2 separate regions of the Homo sapiens genome follow, and region 2 is linked to region 1. The links come from fine-mapping of genetic effects on gene expression. A gene starts in region 1. The other region holds a variant in brackets. All regions are shown on one strand. Distances are from middle to middle. Region 1 holds the start of RCAN2 (regulator of calcineurin 2). Region 2 overlaps RCAN2 (regulator of calcineurin 2).

Region 1 (10,107 bases):
TACAGTAATCAAGAGAGTGTGGTCTGAGTGAAAGGACAAACAAATACATCAGTGGAACAGAATACAGAGCCCAGAAATAGACCCACACAAATATATAGTCAACTTATCTTTGATGAAGGCCAAACACAATACAACAGAGAAAAGATCATCTTTTCAATATATAGTTCTGGAACAAGAGGATACCCGCATGCAGGAAAAAAAAGAGAATCCAGGCACAGACCTTATAACCTTCAAGAAAATTAACTCACAATAGAGAATAGACCAAGATATAAAATTCTAAACCATAAAACTCCTAGAAGATAACATGGAAGAAAATCTAGATAACCTTGGGTTTGGTGATAACTTTTTAGAAACAGTGCAAAAGGTAAAATCTATAAAAAATTGATAAGCTGGACTTTATTAAAAATAAAAACAGGTGGGGCACAGTGGCTCACGCCTGTAATCCCAGCACTTTGGGAGGCTGAGGCGGGTGAACCACGAGGTCAGGAGTTCAAGACCAGCCTTGCCAATATGGTGGAACATTGTCTCTACTAAAAATACAAAAATTAGCCAGGCGCAGTGGTGCGTGCCTGTAGTCCCAGCTACTTGGGAGGCTGAGGCAGAAGAATTGCTTGAACCCAGAAGGCGGAGGTTGCAGTGAGCCAAGATCATGCCACTGCACTCCAGCCTGGGTGACAAAGCGAGATTCCACCTCAAAAAAATAATAAGTAAATAACTAAAAACTGCTCTGCGAAAGACACTGTCAAGAGAATGAGAAGACAAGTACCAGGTAGGAGAAAATATTTATAAAAGACATATCTAATAAAGAACTCTTATTCAAAATACAAAAATAACTCTTACCAATAGAAAACAAGAAAAGCAACATAAGAAAATAATCTGATTAAAAAATGGGCAAAAGATCTGAACTGACGCCTCACCAAAGAAGATGGCAAATAAGGCACCGCAAATGGCTTTAAGCATATAAGTTTGACAAATGGCAAATAAGCATATAAAAATTCTCAACATCATGTCAATAGGCAGCTACAAATCAAAATAATGAGATGCCAATTAGAATGGTGGAAATCCCAAACACTGTCAACACCAAATGCTGGTGAGGATGTGGAGTAACAGGAAGTCTCATTCATTGCTGGTGGCAATGCAAAATGGTATAGCCCCTTCAGCAGAGTTTGTCAGTTTCTTACAAAATTAAACCTACTATATGATCTATCAATCACACTCTTTGATATTTACCCAAACAAGTTGAAAGCTTACATTCACACAAAAACTTGCACATGAATACTTAGAGCAACTTTTTACTTATTGTCAAAACTTGGAAGCAATCAAGTTGTCCTCCAACAGGTGAATGAACAAATAAACTGTGGTATATCCAGACAATGAAATATTATTCAGTGCTAAAAAGAAATGAGTTATTTGAGCCATGAAAAGACAGGGAAACTTACATCCATATTAAGTGAAAGAAGCCAATCTGAAATGACATTCACTTATATGACATTCTGGAAAAGGCAAAACTATGGGGACAATTAGAAATTCAGTGGTTGCCAGAGCTTAGTGGGGAGGATAGAATGAATAGGCAGAGCACAGAGGAGTTTTAAGGCAGTGAAGCTATTCTGTGTGAAACTATAATGGTGGATATAGGTCATTATACACTTGTCTAAACTCAAAAAAGTACACCACCAAGAGTGGATCTGTAAACTACGGACTTTGGTTGATAATGTTGTGTTCATGTAGCTTTATTCATTGTATTACTCCTGTGTCAGACTTTGATAGTCAGGGAGACTATGCATATGTGGGGGCAGGCAGTATATGGGAGTTTTCTGTTCTTTCTGCTCAACTTTCCTGTGAACCTAAAAGTTTATATTTATAATGTCACATACAACCATTGAGAGGCAGTCTAGTCTAGTGGGGACTCCAAAGCCAGGTTGTCTAGGTGTGAATTCAGCTTTCCACTTGTTAGCTTCAGCAAGTCATTTATTTAATCTTTCTGTGCTTTCTTTACTATAGGTTAATTATAGTACCTATCTAATAGAGTTGCCATGAAAGTGAAATGAATTAATGTATAAAAATTCATTGGCTTGGAGCGTGGCATATACTAAATGCTCAATAAATGTTAGCAAACCAAAATTCTGATCTTATTTACCACCATCCTTAACATTAGCTACCCTTTAGCCTCACTCCTGCTCTCCAAAATCCTCTTCAAGCTCAGACCCCATCCCATAAACTCTTTTTCTCTCTGTATTTTCTTCTTGCCATTAACATTTGTTTTGCTAGTAACATTTTGTTCTTCTCAAGGTAAACAACATGAGGCTGTTTGTCACTTTTCATTTTTTTCCTCATTTATTATGCTTCCTTCTTCACACAAACTGACAAACACAGAATTTCTCTTAGCAGTAGAAGGAGGAATATGTGGCTATGAGAACTCAGAAACAGCATCTAGAAAAGTAACAATATCTATATTTGGTGTTAGGAAAATGGCTATGTTGATTTTGGTAACAGCTAACATATATTGAGTATCACTGTGTGCCAGGCACTGTGCTTAGGTGTTTTACATGTATTACCTCATTTAGTTCTCAGATTAAATCCTGTGTTTTTCCAACTTTTCAAAATTTCTGCAATGAATATATTGCTTCTATAAGCTGAAAATTTTATTTGTAAATGTATATTCACAAAATAATAAATAGTCCCTGTTAAGATGAAAGTCATCAGTTTGACGAAGATTCTAGGAAGTACTCACTAATAATAAGTGAGATTTTGTTTAAAGGGTTGGGGATGCTTTACTTGGAAAGAAAGGGGATCCTGGAGTGCATTAGACATGCTAGCTATTTTTACATATTTTAAAGATAGTTAGAAGAGGAATTTGACTTGGTTTCTTTGGCTTCAAAAAGTAAGGGAGAACTAATGATTAAAGGGAGGCAAGTTTTTGCTCAACTTAAGAATGCCCTTTCAGACAATTCTAACCCAAATGGCAATTATCTAAATCAACGACTAATTACAGATTTATGCATCCAGGGGAAGGCTGAACGAGGGGAAGCCTAAGGTCATTTTCAATTCTGAAATTGTGTTTATGTTAATGCAGATTAATCAGAGAGAAGAGCCAACGTCTCGTCTACCTTTTTTTGTTGAAAACAAACAAAACGTGATTGTATGTCAACTTTGGAAAAAAACAACGTAGTGTGGGTAAGTGAAGAATGATTGTGAATGGACTGCTTCAGTGCAATCGTAATATTGTTATCAGAAAATCAAAAGGCATAAAAAGCAAAAAGAAAACGGCTTATTTATGCAGCAATTCGAAAGATGACAGAACACAAACCTGATTTAAATGTTATTCACTCCCTCCCTCAGATTGGTCTGCACACCTCCTTCCTTTAATTTCCCGCACTCTCCTATGATCTTTTGCATAATTCACATTCTCTTGCCATGAGACTCAGTCCTGTTCCTATCTGTGCCACCCGTAAGCCACAGGCTTCCTTACCCATTTGAGTTGCTTTATTCCGTAAAGCAGAGACTTCTACTGGGGTTAACTTTGTTGAGCAACAGATCTACCCTAGATTGCGATTCACCTTCAGTCCCGTTTGCTGTAGGATACCAACCTCCCACTCACTGTGTCATGGCTCTCACACAATAGGATTCCTTGCAGCCCGAACCCTTCTGTCCTCAGGTCTGATGGCTGCAAATCCTGGCAAAGCTGTGAAGCCCGCGCAGGGCACCCTCAGCGGCCTGGGCTGGGCCGGGCGCAGGGCTCCAGCCAGAGGGCGCCAGCGCCCACCAAGCGCAGAAGCCCGGGAGGACCATCCAGGGGCTCCCCGACATTTCCTCAGTTAGCCAGAGTCGGGGGGCTCAGACATCTGGTAAGAAGAGTCTTTCTCCCAGTACTCCCCCACCACAGTTTGCTTCTCTGACCATTTCTTCTGGGCTGTCGCTGCCCCCTCACCCTCAGCTTAGTATGGGACCCCGAGGAGCCTCTTCCCGCTGAGGCCGGGACTCCTGCAGCCAGGCTCCCACGCCAGGTGCCCGGAGGCTCCTGCGCCCTCCCGGGCACCTGAAGTGGAAAGGAGGGGGTGCGGGGCTGAGGGCAGGGTGAGAGCCCCGGAGGTGCGGTGGGTAGGGGACTGGGGAGGGCGCCGGGTCAGGAGGGAGGAGATGAGAAGAGGCCAGACAGGGGCTTTCGGTTTCCCTGGGTCTGATTGGAGGTTGGCCCGATGAGTCGGAGCTGGGGACGCGCCCATCTCCGCCGGCTCCTGCGAGAGCCGCCGGCTCAGCCCCTCCCTGGAGCCGCTTTGTCCCGGGTGACGGCGGCGGAGGTTGCGGGGAGGAGCGGGCAGCAGGCAGAATCCCACTGACCCACGGCGGCAGAGAGAGGGAGGCGGGGCGCGCCGCGCCGCGTACGGCCCCACGCAAAGGCCCGCGGGCACCGCGCCGCCCCCACGCGCTCGCACCGGCGGGCAGGTGAGCAGGCAGCGCCGCGCGCTAGCAGCTGGCCCCCGTAGACGCCCCAGCCGCCGCCTCCGCCTCCGCCTCCGCCGGCGCATCGCGGACGCCCAGCAGGTCGGTTATGTAACCGCGCCGGCCAGGCTCGCCCAGGCACCCCGTCCCGCCGGGGCTGACAGCAGCCCCGGGGTCGTGCCGGGGGTCCGCGGCGGGGATCTGGTCTCCGGGCCGGGTCTGGGTGCAGGGCGGGGGCGGGGGCGGGGGCGGGGGCGGTGGCGGGGGTGGGGGCAGTGGCGGGGGTGGGGTTTGTCTCCAGATCTGTGGTCAGTCCCGGCTGCGGCCGTGGGGACGGAGATCTCCCGCGACCCCCCTCTAGGGGGCGCGGGTCCAAAGGAGCCCCTTCCCCACTGCCCGTGGCCCGGGGGTTTGCCTTCCTGGAAGCAGCAGCAGGTGCATAAGTGAAGGAGCGAGGATGACGCCTGTGATCCCCGGGACTGAGGCTTAGAGAGGGTCTAGAAGAGACTAACTGGATGCAGAGAGCAAAGAAGATCGAGAGATCCCTTCTTCCCAATGCAGAGGCTGGGGAGGGGGTAGGTGCACTGAGGTGCAGCGGGCTGAGAATTGTCCTGCTTGGGATTAGCGGCCTTGGGTCATCTAAAAATAACTTCAAGTTTGAAAAGTGAAATGGAGCGGAGCGCAGTGTGCCGGGTTCGTCCTGCCTGTGGGATGCTTCGCTCCAGAAGTCACCAGAGGGAACAGGCAAATCCCAGCCGCCTGATCCCTCGGCCGCCTCCAGGTCTCGCTGGTTTCCAGGGTGCCTCGGTTTGCCTTTTAGTTAATGATTTATTCTTCGAGGTACTTCTGCCTATTTCTTATCCCAAAATGAATTATAGCAGAATGCATGCTTTGAATCTTTCCTGTTTCTTACAATGGGATAGAGGTGTTCAACTGCCAAATGAAGTTTTTTTAAGTCTCAGTTTAGTAAAAACAAAAGTTTCTGGGGTTCCTTTAATATGCATTCCCACAGTTTTCCACAATTGGAGATGAAGGGATGTCACAGCATTCCAGCTCACACTTCTCTCTCCCTTCAGCCAGAATTTCACTCAACTTATCATGCAGAGGGGAGGCTTTAGGAAATGTAGGACAACTTTAACAGTGCAACTCAAGTTTCACACCTTTGTTATCCTTTATTACATCACTTCAAAACGAAGAACAAATGTACCACAAGGTACCACGCAACACTTGCTAACCGGCCTCTGCATTCTGGGGGCACAGTGAAGTTGGAAATACCCAAAAGCTGGAAAGGATCAAGAGGCAGGTCAGCATTGACTGTCAACTAGGCAGGAGAGTGAGCATTTGGCTGCTTTTCAGTGTAGTCATTGATTTTCTTTAGCCTTAGAGCTATTATATTAAGTATGATCAGCCATTGAGTTCAATTAGTCTAAAATGTGAGTTGCACTTTGCATTCAAATCCACTGCAAATCAAATCAGCATTTACTGAGCATCTACTACCTGAGTCCAGTCCATAGAATTTTGTGAGGGAAAAGTGTTCTCATCTAAAGCTACATGATTCTGAGAGCTCTCAAAATGCTTAGTGTGTGCAGGTCCTCCAGAACTCACCTAAATTTGGGAGGGCATGACTCTTTCTCCAGTGATGAACGTGTAACAGACAGAAGTGGGAACTCGAGAGCTTTCTCATTTGTAAGTGCACATCACGGTGTTAAAAACCACTTGTGTAATCATTTGCAGACAGTCATACATATCACAAATTCTTTTTATTGAGACTAACATTGACAATCACCGAGGTCTCATTTTCCTATTTTACGTTCTGTAGCATCCACTCGATCAATTCAATAATTATTTGTTGAGCACCTCCTGTGTGCTTTGTAGGTCCTGTGCCAGAGGCTAAAAGAATGAGGCCCATGCCTCCCAGAAATCAATTTAGCAGAAAAGGAGAAGAAAATAAATGGTAATGATTCAACATCATGAGTGTTTAATGAAGACAGAAACAAGTTTAATGGGAGCCAACAGAAGAAAGAGTGGAGGGAATCTGGAAGAGTTTAAAGAAGAGTTTACATTTGGTCTGGATCCCAATAGGTGGTAGGAGTTGTCTAGAGAAGGGGCTGGGTATTCCACACTGAAGGAACAGCATACACACATGGCAGAAAGGTCACATTCAGAGGACACCTACATGTTCTGAGGGAAGACAGGAATGTTTAGAAAGGTTTCACTGAAGCTGGATTGTGAATATACCCTGCTAAGGAGGAGAAACCATGTGGCCCTTAATGGTAGGAATGATTTCATCTAACTTACATTTTGCAAAAGTGACTGTGGAGGTGTGAGGAGGTGGGGTTGCAAAAAGGAATGAGGAGACTTTAGACCATTGGAGTGGCACAGACCAAAACAAAACAAAAACCAGAAAACTTATGAAATGTGCCTGAACCAGATGGCCTGGAGGAAAGAGAAGAGATCTATACAGAGCCATTTCAGGGGGAGGATCGGTAGCATTGGTCACCAAGTGGATGGTGGTATGGAAGGAGAAGCTTAGATGTCTAGAGGATGGTCAGGCTTTTAACTGAGGGAGTAAATAAGAGGAGACTTGAGAAAGATGGAGAATTTTTATTTTGAACAACCAAATGAAAATGTTCAGTAGGCACTTTTATTTTCAAATGTAATTTCTTCATTTCTGGTGCTAACCTTCTACTGATCTTACTTCTCTTCATTTCTGAGACTGTGTAAGGTTGCTTTTAGAGAAGAAGGAGAGACAAACTTAATAGCAGGAAGTTGTTTCTACCTTTATCCCCAAAAGTGGTAGTATGAACTCAGTTATTTGAACTACTACTAGTGGTAACAGTGATAATAATGATAATGATAATATCTAACATTTATTCAGTGCTTACTACATACTGAACACAAGGAAGTTAGAACTGTACCTGGTTTATCACATCTGATCTTCCCACTAACCTTATGAGGCAGGCACTGTTGTTATTCTCAGATGACTGACAAGAAAACCAAGGCAAAGAGAGGATATCTTGCGTGGGTCACACAGTTTGTAAGACGTGCACCTAGAATTGAAGCCCAGGCTCTGACCAGCATTCTGAATTACCAATGTGAATTAATAGCATTAAAATAATTCTTTTTTATCCTGGAATGTGTTTTTTGCCCTAGGTTTGGATATTTTTGGCTGATGCCACAAAAGAGAACTGGACTGAGTCAGGAGTCCTGGCTTTTGACTGGGCTCTACACCTGATTTGCTGTGTGATGTTTGCAAAGTCACATCCCATCTCAGGCTTTTGTTATTTTAAATCTGTATATTCATGGAACAAGAGGTCGGTTAGATGCTCTCTAGGGAGTGTGACATTCTGAAGTCTTGCTGTTTGCTTTCTCAAATTCTCTGCTACTAGAACCATTGGTTTGGGTTAAGGTCGTACCTGTCTGGTCACTTAGAGGATAGAAATACTTCAAAGAGGATTAACACAAATGGTGGCTTCTCCTTAATAGTTTGGTGTGAACTGATCCATTTTACAGAGCTAATGGGAGTGCCTGAGGTTGGGGAAGCATGGTCCTGGAAGGGGAACCCTGCCTGCCTGGGCACTAAAGTAGAGGAATCTCCATGGTCACTTACCAGTTTCTTTTCTTTAGACATGTTGCTTTAACTCTATGAGAGTTTCCTCATGTCTGAGAAACTGGGGCAATTAATGCACATATTGTGAGATTATTGTGAGGATTGAAGCAGTACTATAAACCAGGCACCACATACAAGTCCGTCTCAGTGAAGGTGCTCAGGAAATGGAGGTCCCACCCTTTGCCGCCAGGGTAAACGACATGTAGAAAGGGAAAGGTAGAGTGTTTCTGAAGACAAAGTTTCCTACTTCATAGCTTTGATAGGGGCCACCTCTTAGTTGAGTATCATCTATTTATCTAAGAAAGAAGTGTATGTTGGTAGTATAAAAACACACAGCACATTAAATAACTTCCAAAATGTGCATCTCTGAAGTATTCATTAATAGGTTACCTTCTTAGAGATAAAGAAGCGTCAACATTCCACAACACAGAGTTTTCAATTCTTCTTTTGCCAGCTTATAAGGAGGCCAATGTTGCTGTAAATAAAGAAATAGTATTGCCAAGGTTGGTCATACTGGATTCTATTATTATGGCATAGAATAGAGAGGGGACAGAATGATTTTCTGTTCTGTGTGTGTCTGTGCACAGATATGTGCTTTGTCTTCCTGAAGAATTTTCTGCCTCTGCCTGTAAAGTGTTCACTGTTCTTGTGTCTTTTCACTTGTTACCAACTCTAGGTGTCATATATTGTAAGTTAAATTAATTAGTTGAGGAATATTTTTAAAGATGGAAGCAGCTTTAAACTCAATGGAAACTTCAAAAATCCCTTAAAAATGATAAAGTGAGTGACCATGAATGGTACTTTCCAGAAGTTAAAGAAATGCTTCCAAATACAATTCAAACTCCCTGCAGTTCAGAATGCCCACAGAAAATATTTTTTATAGTATGGATGGAAACAGCCTTATTTTCATATCTGATCTTCTATATTCAACTTACTGCAAGACAAGGGATAAAATTTTGGAATCCTAAGCTTTGGAATGTATGCATAAAAAGACATTGTAATGGTAGCTATTGGACCAAAAAAATGTATTATTTTAGAACACGGTCCTAGATTTTATCACTGTTTCTTAGTTCTTTGTGGGAATAATTGCTTTATTATATCATGTAACTGAGATTTGCCTGTTCCAAAATATTATAATTTCTCTGAAGACTCGGGCCATGCCTTAGTACTTCTCATACAGTGTTGGGAATGAAGTATAAAGAACATGGACTTGGCATGAAAAAGCCTGGATCTCAATCCTGGTGCTGTCATTTCCCTGCTATGTGACCTTGAGCTTCCCATTGACCTAACAGTCATAGGAACTGGCATTTGTTGAATGCTGCCCCTGTTCCAGATGCTTTGCTCAGCATGCTACATACGTTATCTCATTTAATCCTTACAACAACTCCACAAGGTGGGTATTATCATCACTATTTACAGAAAAGCACACCCTGAGGATCAGGGGGAATAAGCCACTCAGTGCCGGTTCTCTGAGTTGCAGTTTTCTTATCTGTACAATTAGGAAAATAATACCTTATCTCCCCACTTTACAAAGGTGTGAGGGTGATGTACTATGAGTTTGTGAATGTGCACAGAAAAATGGAATGCTCTGCACAGATGTTGAGGATGATTGTCACAATAGGGACCTACTAATAACAAGAAATCAATTATAGGTGGGCCTGGTATAGTACCATGGCTGTGAGAAGAAAGATGTCCAATGCATATAAAATACATTTATATAATGCATTAAGAATGTTGTATTTCCTTGCCCTGTTCTTTGGTACAAATAGCTTGTTTTTTGGGGGGGTAACTTATTTGTTGTCAGTACCAATGTGGGTCAGGTCAGGCCAGAGCTGATCAGGACATGGAACTGGGTCCAGCTGGTGAAGGGGGAAGGAGACTGTGGTTTGAAGAGAAGAGGTACTGCCAGAGGGGTGTTTTAGTATAAACAGAGAAGGGTGAAAGTCAAAGCCAAGGTTGAGGAAAGGATAGGCATGATGTGGAGTGCAAGAAGGAGTCATCATCAGGGTTTACATCAAGCGTGAGTGACAGGCAGAACATGGAGTCTGCTCATGAAG
Region 2 (10,107 bases), 170 kb after region 1:
CTGGGGACCACACTCTGAGAGTGACTAGCAGAGAGGAAGCAAGATTGGCCCCTTGTTAATTATTCTTGCACCTGGGTGGTGGATACATGAAGGCTCATTATTATATTCTGTCTTCTGCTGAATATATTTGAAATTCTCCATAATAAACATTTAAAAAACAGATGATCCAGAAGGCCATACAGAAGGAGCAGAGCCTTTGACAACCCATAGCTGTAATGGGAACTTCTATGCTCATTAGCCAAACAGGCTTGGCTGCTGCTACCACAGCTTCCTCTGGGATTGGAAGGTGTGCATCTCCTCCTGCTGAGATGGAGGTGAGTGTATCAGCTCAGCTGTCCATCCTTTTAGAGAATTGCCTGAACTGAAGGGAGGGCAATGGCCTCTGTCCAAGGGGTCTGTGCATAATGCATCCTTTCCTCAGTGTGATCGGTCATTGCAAGAGCAGTGGTTTGGATGAATCCCAAGGTTTTCTGGCCACTTCAGCTGGAAAGGACACTCCTGAACAGAGCTAAGCCAGGACTCAGCTCTCAGAGATGAGAGGTTATCACCGAACTCACCATGCCTTTGCAGCCCTTCTGCAAAAGCCTCCCTGCAACTCCTGGATCTAGGAGGCACCTCTATTGGTTTGAGTCTCTCTACTTGCCTTTTTAGATTCATTTGTGTATTTATCCATTCATCTTTCAGATGTTTATTAGAGTAACTCCTAAGTGTCAGGCATCCTTCTAGCCCCTGGGAATAAGCAGGGAGCAGAATAGGCAAAAATCTCTGCTTTTATGGAGATTAAATTCTAGTTGTGAGGACAAGCAGTGGACACATAAAGAAATAAATGAACAGAATAATTTCAGGTAGTGAAAAGTGCTGTGAAGAAAGTTAAAATGAAGATGCCAGGATAGTGATTGACTCTGTGTGTGTAAAAATGTGCACACAATTTTTATTTTAGCTGATTGGGGAATACTTTTCCAAAGAGATGTGATCTGAGCGGAGATCCAGATGATAAGAAGGAGCAAGCCATGAAGAGATCTGAATATTTTCAGAGAGAGGGAATAGCAAGTGCAAAGGGCCTGAGATGGGAATGAGCTTGGAAGTTTTTCCTTTGTTTCTTTCTTTTTTTTTGGAACACCAATAAGGCCAATTGGGCTGGAACAAGAGGAGTGAAGAAAGGTGAGAATGATATGAGATGAAGTGGGAGAATAATCCAAGTCTAGTGTTTACAAGGCCTTGTAGCCATTGGCCAAAGTGTATCTATATTCTAGACACCTCCAAGGCTGCAAGTCAGCCCCTAGCTATAAAAAAACACATTCTCGGCTAGGGGTGGTGGTTCAAGCCTGGAATCCCAGCACTTTGGGAGGCCAGCGTGGGCGGATCATGAGGTCAAGAGATTGAGACCCTCCTGGCCAACATGGTGAAACCCCATCTCTTCTAAAAATACAAAAATTAGCTGGGCGTGGTGGCCCGTGCCTGTAGTCCCAGCTACTAGGGAAGCTGAGGCAGGAGAATCATTTGAACCCAGGAGGTGGTGGTTGCAGTGAGCTGAGATCGTGCCACTGCACTCCAGCCTGGTGATAGAATGAGACTGTATCTCAAACAAACAAACAAACAAACAAAACTCTAGAGAAACAGGACACTGTTATAACAGGAGAGCCTCCTGGGCTCTCTAGCCAATAGGAAAATGACCATATTGTATAGACGAATGACTATTAAAAACCCAATAAGTTGGGGGTTTAAAACCCACTAATTTTAGTTCAGAGTTACTGGAAAGTTCCTTTGCCCCACAAATCATCTGCTCTTGATGCCTAGAACTCTGCCCTAAAAACACAATTTGCCCAACTTAAGACTCTGTCTCTTATTAAAATATGTATTCCTCTGGGAGGGATAATACTATGAGTTATCAGTCATTTAATGCTTATACAGATGAGTTGACAACTGTCCTTGAAAAGATATTTTAAAAGAGGAAAGCATAAAGTTAGTGGGTGCTTGGATAGCAGGAAGGAATCTGTAGGGCAGAATCAAATTAGAAAGGGAAAGCTGAGGATACATCAGAAAAAAAAAACTGCCTATTTTACAACTTCAAGTAGGGCTTTGCTTCCTGGATAATGTCCTCTGGTCAGGGCATATCACAGCAATGTTTATCTTTTATAGCTCTTTCCTAAACATAAAGTGTGAAATAATTCATACAGCCCCTTATGTAAACAGAGCAATGATTAGAATGTGTTGCTTCTACTTTGCTGTTGTTTCTTGATGGGCTCTGGGCACACGTGGACTTTGCCTCTATGGATGAACTGTCACTGATATGGCATAACGTTTTCATGAGTATGAAACAGTGATGTGCTGGAACAGCCCGTGTGAGCAGATTACATGCATGTCTTCCCAACTTTGTATTCAGTTTGACTTCACACTGACTGCTGGAAATCAGCCATGATGAGCATATTTACACCATAGAAATTGACGAATGCTAAAAATTGAAATGTTTCTTTTCAGAGAGCTGATTGTTAAACATTTACCAGTATGCTGTGAAATGTAAAAAATAAATTTTAGGATATGCCATGGCATATGAAAAAATATTCATTTCTTTGTTTTGCCTCTTGAACAGATGCCAGTGATATTCAAAATCACATTCATCTTTGTATTACTTTACATTTTAGCTACACTTGTACAGGTAGATCCCCCATTTACCTTTTCAAAAGCTGCCTGGTACTTCATGTTGGCCAGGTTTTGCATCATCTGGCTCCGGCTGCCTTGTATACTTCAGGCTCCAGCCAGATTTAACCCTGAGTGAGTTTTGCATCCAAATGCCTTATTCTTTCCTTTGGACATTTCTAGTCTGTTTTTACCTAGCTGAAGGGCACCCCTCACTTCTCTGTCTGCCAGTATCTTTCCCGTATTTCAAGGTCAGAGCAGAAATTTCCTCCCCTTCTTTGATGCTCACCTGCCATCCTAACATGGGATCCAGCATTCAGCATTCATTGCTCTTTCTCCAGTGCTCCCACTGAACACTTCCTATACCTATTCAGCCATCACCATCCCTGCCTTGTGAAATGTTGGTCTCCATGTCTTATCTCCTCCCCTGGATTTTAAGCCCATTGATGATAGTGACATTTGCTTTTTCATCATTTTATCCTTGAGAGTATCAGATGCAGAGCTTTGCATAGTCATTACTTGATATTAGTTGGATTATATGCATATATGACTTAATATTTCCCACAGTGTCCTGGACAGCGAAATAAATGCCACTTGAACAAATGCACAAAGACACACACACACAGTTTCATCAGTCTAAATATCCATATTTGTGGCCTGATTACCTTTAGCATAGAAAATGCCTTGTTGAAGGGGAACATTGGACTCAAGTGTACACCAATGAGGACAAATGAGAAAGCTTCTACTCTCAGTCTGAAATGTCACCTTTCTCATCTGCATGTAAAATTGGGAGGCTTTTGTCCAGTCATATGTTAGAAAAGTACCAATCTGTTATAAATCAGGATGTTCCAGTGGCCACTGAAGATACAACTGAACTCTTAAGGATAGATACTGCTACAATGTTAGTGAGTTCTACTGGGACTTGTATAACTAATGATAAAATAAAAAACAATTGGAAATTTTTCCTTTGGTCACTCCTGTGAAAGGAGGCTATTCCTGTTTGATTGATTTATTTATTAAACAAGTATCATCTTCTTGTGCCAGGCAATCTGTGAAAGACTGAAGATATAAAGGTAAATCATCTGTGGCCTTGCCCCTCAGGGATTTATAATCAGGAAAAAAGCCTGAGAAAGCAAAAGGATGTGTTCAAAGTCTCAGGTGAAGTCAAGCCCCGAGGATCTGACAAGCTCTGAGACACATCAGTGAGTTTGCCCGTTAGACCCTGCCATCTGTCCCCGTGTGAAATATTTGCTGTAACTCCTTTCCATGAACTGCTTTTGGTTTGAATGACCTTGGAGACAGCCTGAAATCCTGAGCTTGGAAGGGTGCTCTTAGCGTTACTGGTCTGCACTTATAGCCTTCAAATAGAATTTCCACAAACCTCTAATTATCTCCTCTTACCATGCTCCCTAAATGACAGACGACCAGCTCTTTAGTCACTCCAAGAACGGATTTCTATTCAGCCCATGCCCGGGATGCATTAGGATGCCCAGAACATGTGTGGCTGCTCTGAGTGGCACAGAGCAATTAACAGAAGCCAAGCAATTTGCAAAATGCCTCAACTTCCTGCTCATCTCGAAGGCAGAAAATTGTCAAACCTTAACCTCAGGAGGCTCATCTGCAGAATTACACCTCCCCCACCTCAAAGAAGAAACTCTGGTGTCAGATTCACCCCCTCCTGCTTTTTGCAAAC[A/G]TAAGCACTCGGCTGCAACAACAGCTATGACTCAGTTCCTAGCTAACGCTGCTTGAATTGATTTAGTCTGAGTTCAGATTTAGCACATAATCATGTTCAATTTGCTCCACTGCACTGCCTAGAGATAAAAGGCTTGGAGAAAAAAAAATAGCTTCAGCTTGTGTCAGTCTTTGTGGTGATGTCATTGCCATGAGCGAGCCGGGCCGTTCGTTACTCTGCTGTGCTGCCTCAGACGCGGAGGGCTGCGTGCAGTGGGAGCGGGCTCCAGGAGCCCGAGCCTCCAGCCGTCCCCAGAGCAAGGCAGCACCGAGGCCTGGCCACAGCAATATCCATCTGGAAGCTCTTCCCTTCACTCCCAACTCTGAGGTTGCCTAACTCTTTATTAAAAATTCAGAAGGGGGAATGCCAGCCCCTAGCATGGACTGTGATGTTTCCACTCTGGTTGCCTGTGTGGTGGATGTCGAGGTCTTTACCAATCAGGAGGTTAAGGTATGCACCTGCAATCTTATTTTTCATTGTTGCTGTTACTGACGCTGCTTGGCAGAGCCTTTTTAGCATGAAGAAATAAGACTTTGGTTAATAGTTTTCAGCTCATAGTCTGCGCTAGAAATGCATGTAGTGAGTGCATGGCTGCATTAAGTAGAATAAGTTGGAAGAGGGACCAGCATATTATTTTTAAATATGACAAGGTCTGCCATTGTTTCTTCTTGTCTTTTTTATTAGGTAATCCCTGGTCAGTCCTTTCTGAGTAGACACATTTTCATATTCTCATATTGTATCTTTGTCAATAAGGAGAATTTTCCAGCCCTCAATGTCAAGAGGGATTTTGAATCAATGATTACATGAAGAAAGCACACATAATAAACCCAGCATCCAGGCCAGCCTGACAGTGGGGCAATAACCCTTTCTGGCATGTCACTTAAATATCCTGTGATGTGGTCTTCAAATTAAACAATAGCTGTTCTACAGATGGCAGTTTCAGTCCCCAGCTTTCTGGAAATCAAAGTTGGAGAACAGCTGCCTAAATTTTCTTTGTCAGGCAAAGAAAGCAAGTCATTTTCCTTGAGCAGTTGTTCATAAAGTTTAGGCATAAATATTTCGCATCTTAAGGCTTAGTATTATACATGCTGGTCCTCACTGATTGCCGGCAGCAGTTGTTGACTTGTCATAGGTAATCGTCCTCTGATGATATTCATTCCCTTTTATTTTCCATTTGGCTTTATATTATGGAGAAGATGCCAGGCTTGCAAAATGGAAATGTTTATTTTTTCTCTCATATTTAATAGAAGAACTAGCTGAAGCTTCTTATTTAAACAGTTCACTCACACATATACACGCACAGAAGGTCAGTTGTTCATTGTGTGGTGGGAGGAATAAAAGGTGAATTACATTGCATAATCATTTACCATCCTTGCTTTAGTCTTAACTTAAGGAAAAACCCTGAATTCTTTATTGTTGGGTGTGCAGGTGACACCCTGGTGCTTTACAGGTGGGGATTTATGTGTTCTTGGCATAGCACATGGCTATGTCATTCAAGATTGCAGCTTTAACAATCTTTTGAAATAGATTTGATAATCTGGCATTTTGTTCCTGAATATTTTAAACATGTAGCCCTGTATTTACTAATTTTTGTGTCAGTGCCATGGAAATGTCTACCACCTGTCATATGAAGGTTCAGAAAATAAGGACATAAAGGTTTGGCACTGTCTGTGATTGCATTGAGAATGGAAACATGCATGCAGAGACCCACAGTCCTGCCAGTCGTACTTCCATAGCACTTGAGAAGGGAGAGCAGTCATTTAAAGCCAGCGTCAAGTCCAGTGTGGGTAACCAGGTAGAGAGACATCTTCCAGTAACCACTGGAACATAATTCCATCTATGGAGAATAAAACTTCACAGCTCCCTTCTGTCCTCAACAGTTATCTGTTGTTTACACACTTGCCCTGAGAATGTCATAAAATATTCTAAACTTTATTCGTTTCAGAAAAGATAATGAGAAAATATTTATTGGAGATCTGCAACATGCCAGGCATTGTGCTTATATAGGAAAAAGTTTAAAATATGCTTATATGGCATATGTATCTATGATATAGCTATAAAAATAACCAACTGCCGAAGGTTTCTTTAAAGACAAAGAATATTTTGTGGAATTAAGAGGATACAAAGTTGTTACAGCTGGTTGTATGTGAGTGGTTGGGGTGGTTTTATGGAAAAATGATACTTAAAGATGGGTAGATTTTATACAGAAAGAGAGAAGGCACAGCATTTTGCAGTCTAGTGAGTCAATTCTTTTGACTGCAGTAGGTTCTCTATGAGAGATTAGAGGCAAACGGGAAAGGAGGTGAGTCAGGGCTAGATGGTGAACAGCTGATGCTGTTCTTCATAAATTTATGAGGTTTTTCGAGGAAGACTGTTACCAGAAATATGTGCTACATGTATTTACTGCCAATAGCTCTGAATCATCATGGGCTTTTTTCTTTTCTTTTTTTTTTTTTTAGAAAGGTTACCTAATCTTTCTGGGCCTTAGTCTTCTCATATAATGTGAGAATAGTAGTAATTTCTACCTTATTAGCTTAGAGACAAGAGAATTTTACATGTAGAATAATTAACACAGTGCCTGACTCCTATTTAATGCTCAATAAATGTTAGCTATCACCATCGTCATCATTGTCATCTTTGTAGGCACTCTCTGAAAGTGATAGGTAACTTTTACCAGTTTATCAGAATGTCCTAAATCCAGCTGAGTTTACAATGACAGTCTAGCACACAGAAAATGTTTTCCCTCCCACCCCACTCCCAATACACACAAACACTCTAGCCACTTAGAAAACATGGCTTTCCATTTTTGATATTTAATCATCTAATGTAAAGCAGTAACATTATTAAAAAGCAAAGATCTACGTTGTGCTTATTAAAAAGGGGGAAAATGAACAAATTAAGGTGGGCCAAATGTTATGTGTTAAGAAAACCTGCGCTCCTTGTTCAAAACTGACCATTACTCTTATCACGAAGAAAGGTTCAAACGTAAAATTCTAGGCACCAAACAAAGCTTCCCCAAAGGTATCTGTCTTCTTCATTCATTACTAATAACTGGTGGAGCCAAGAGTTCCTTCTTCAAAATCTTTAAGGTTTATTGTCAGAGAAAAGGGAGGCACATGGAAAGGGTCTGTCTCACCTGCTTACATCCATCTTGCTTAATCTCAGTCTTGTTTGTTTAATAGGCATCCCCACTTTCTACATGTAGCCCCCATGGGCAAGCAGCCATACTAGGGGGATGCAACCAGCAGGCCTCCTTCATAAGTATGGGAGTTTATTTGAAATGGGTAGAAGCATCCACAAATCTAGTTTCCCATAGTGACACAGAAAGCCTCATCCTCCAGTGTGGCTCTCAGCTGATTGTATTAGGGGCCCTTCTGACTCCAGTTTCCTAAATTTCATCAAAGCTGCTCAAGCAATAATACTAAAAAGAGGAGGAAATCAGACAAATGGAATTCTGCCATATTTGGCTTTCTCTGGAAATTCCATTGGTGGTGTTGTGAACTTAGCCGTCTGTTCTGCAATGTGAGAGTTCTCAGAAAGATCTAGAAGTTGAGAGCCCTCAATAGAAAATGCTATAGGGGAACTGCAGAATTTCTGTGTGTGTGAATGTGCAGGGTTGATGTTCTCCAGTATTCTCATATTTCTGAAAATAGTCTACCCACTCCACAAAGAGCCAAACCCTTGGGAAAATGAAAGAGATCCAAGAGATTGGTAACGAAATTTACATTTCACTTTAGTCCAGTGGTTCTTAAACCTGATTGCACATCGGTGTCCCCTGGAGATCTTTTAAAAATATTAATGTGCCCAGGCCCCACCCCCAGAACTTTTACCTGGCTGGTCTGAATGGAGCCCAGGCATAGGTAATCATATAAAGCCAGTGTCTTGTCTCTTTCAGGCACAAGTAGGTACAGGTGAGGTCAGCCAAGAATTGTCTAGAGTAAGCTCTGCTTAAGCACTTGGATCCTTATCTCCCCAGCTAAGACTTGATGTATGCAGTTTTAAAAACGGTATCTCTGAGCTGTCAGAAATGTTGACGCTCACCCAACACTTCAGTTCTCCACACCTGCAGTTCCTTCACCTGATTCTGAGCCAACAGCAAATGCTCTTCTTTACTGCTGGCCACTGTGGGGGGCCTTCTCAGAGCTGCAGAGTGCCACCACTCTGCCAGGGGGCATCCAAACCTGGGGCTGCCCCTTCTCTGCAATGGTGGCTTCCTGCACAGAAGAAAGGGTGGGTTCCTTCTCTCTAGATTGGAGGGCTTCTGATTCATGTACCAGGTTTCCAGCCTTGTCTCCATGGGCATCCATGTAGGACACAAGGAATTCACAAAGCTCCCTTCCGCTCATTAGAGCAGGCAGGAAACATGACAAATCTTATAAGAAATACAGAAGCTTCAAAGACCCTTGGCACTTGAGAGATTTGTTCATTCATTCAAAAACATGTGTGGAGCATTTATTACCTACCAGGCAATGCTCTAGGCCTAGGAGTTCGATAAACGTCCCTGCCCTCACGGAGCATATATTCTAACATGAGATGCAGACAATGAAATAGTAAACAAGTAAATATACATGGTAATTTCAGCTAGTGATGAGGGCTATGAACAAAAATGAAGCAGAGTGAGAGATAGAGCATTGATGGGGGAGGAATGGCCACTTTTGAAAAGATTGCCATTGGAAACATCTCTGGGGAAGTGACAGTTTATTAAATGTCATTGTTTCAATGTCATTCAGAGATCTAAAGAAATTTAGAGAGCCATGTACAGAGCTGAGAGAAAATCATTCCACATAGAGTGAATAGTAGGTAGAAAGAGAGGCCATCTTAGCCATCTTATCTGATGTGCTCCTACCTAGTCCCCCCACCAGCACTATTTAACCTGTTTCAATCATTCATTCATTTAGGTACCCATTGAGACGGTCACTGTCTCAAGCTATAATTTATTTTTTTAAGGAGACTCTTTTTCAGAAAACTGTACTTAACCTAATTCCCTCATGCTACGTTTTAAGCCCAATAGCTCTCTTAGGGTAAGGGTAAATACAAGTAGAAGTGTGTTTTCAGCACAGTAATTCTTCATATGCTTGGAATCTTAGGATTGCTACAGGACAGCTCTTTTCTCTTCTGAAAGGCCAAGGCCTTTTTAAGGTCACTCATAAATCCTACTTTCTCTCCTCTGCTTTTGAGAATTTCTCAACATCCTCCCAATCCATGTGACCTGGGACAATCTCTTAGCCTTTCTGGATGCAAAATAATCATGCTGAGAAAAATCCCCTACTGCTCTGTGCATTTTATTTTTCTTTTTACACGATAGTATACCTGACTGAGTCAGAGTCTATTTGTTTTATGCTGTTGTGTGAGTTATGAAAAAGACCAGCACATCATGGCCACTGAGTACAATGAAATCTCTCTGTCATACAAACCACTGGACATTTCAAATCACTTGTTTTGTATGGTGAGAGTGATAGGAGGAGAAGGATGAGGCTGAGTTGGTATGATGCACTTTGTACTCTGCTTTGAGGAGAAACAAGTGACACAATTTAGTATGTGTCACTTGTTCAGGAATTGTTTTGGAAGAGAAACTTAGGTGGGTGTTGGTCAAGAAAGCTGGTTGAACTTCATGCCCATTTCTTAAGTTTTTTGCGAGCACTAGGGTAAGGATCTGGGCACAACCAATCATGACCTATGGCTCTGCAGAGCTCTAAAGCTCTTTAAGAATTTTCAAAAACCATTGTGTTCACTCAGTA

Evidence for each region.
Region 2: its variant is fine-mapped to the expression of RCAN2 in whole blood (TOPMed, PIP above 0.99).

What each region holds. Positions count from the first base shown.
Region 1 is chr6:46,485,608-46,495,714 of GRCh38, reverse strand. It overlaps RCAN2 (regulator of calcineurin 2), which reads left to right and starts at 4,266. Exons shown (of 5, transcript NM_001251974.2): 1 at 4,266-4,542. RCAN2-DT (RCAN2 divergent transcript) reads right to left here and starts at 3,663. Exons shown (of 3, transcript NR_125837.1): 1 at 3,588-3,663. RefSeq lists silencers at 3,644-3,703, 4,214-4,303 and an enhancer at 7,432-8,044.
Region 2 is chr6:46,320,105-46,330,211 of GRCh38, reverse strand. All of the region lies in intron 2 of RCAN2 (regulator of calcineurin 2), which reads left to right. All of the region lies in intron 2 of LOC101926915 (a long non-coding RNA gene), which reads right to left. Among named protein-coding and RNA genes, the nearest start is that of ENPP5, 150 kb to the right of the region's middle. The variant A/G (reference allele first, on the strand shown) is at 4,331.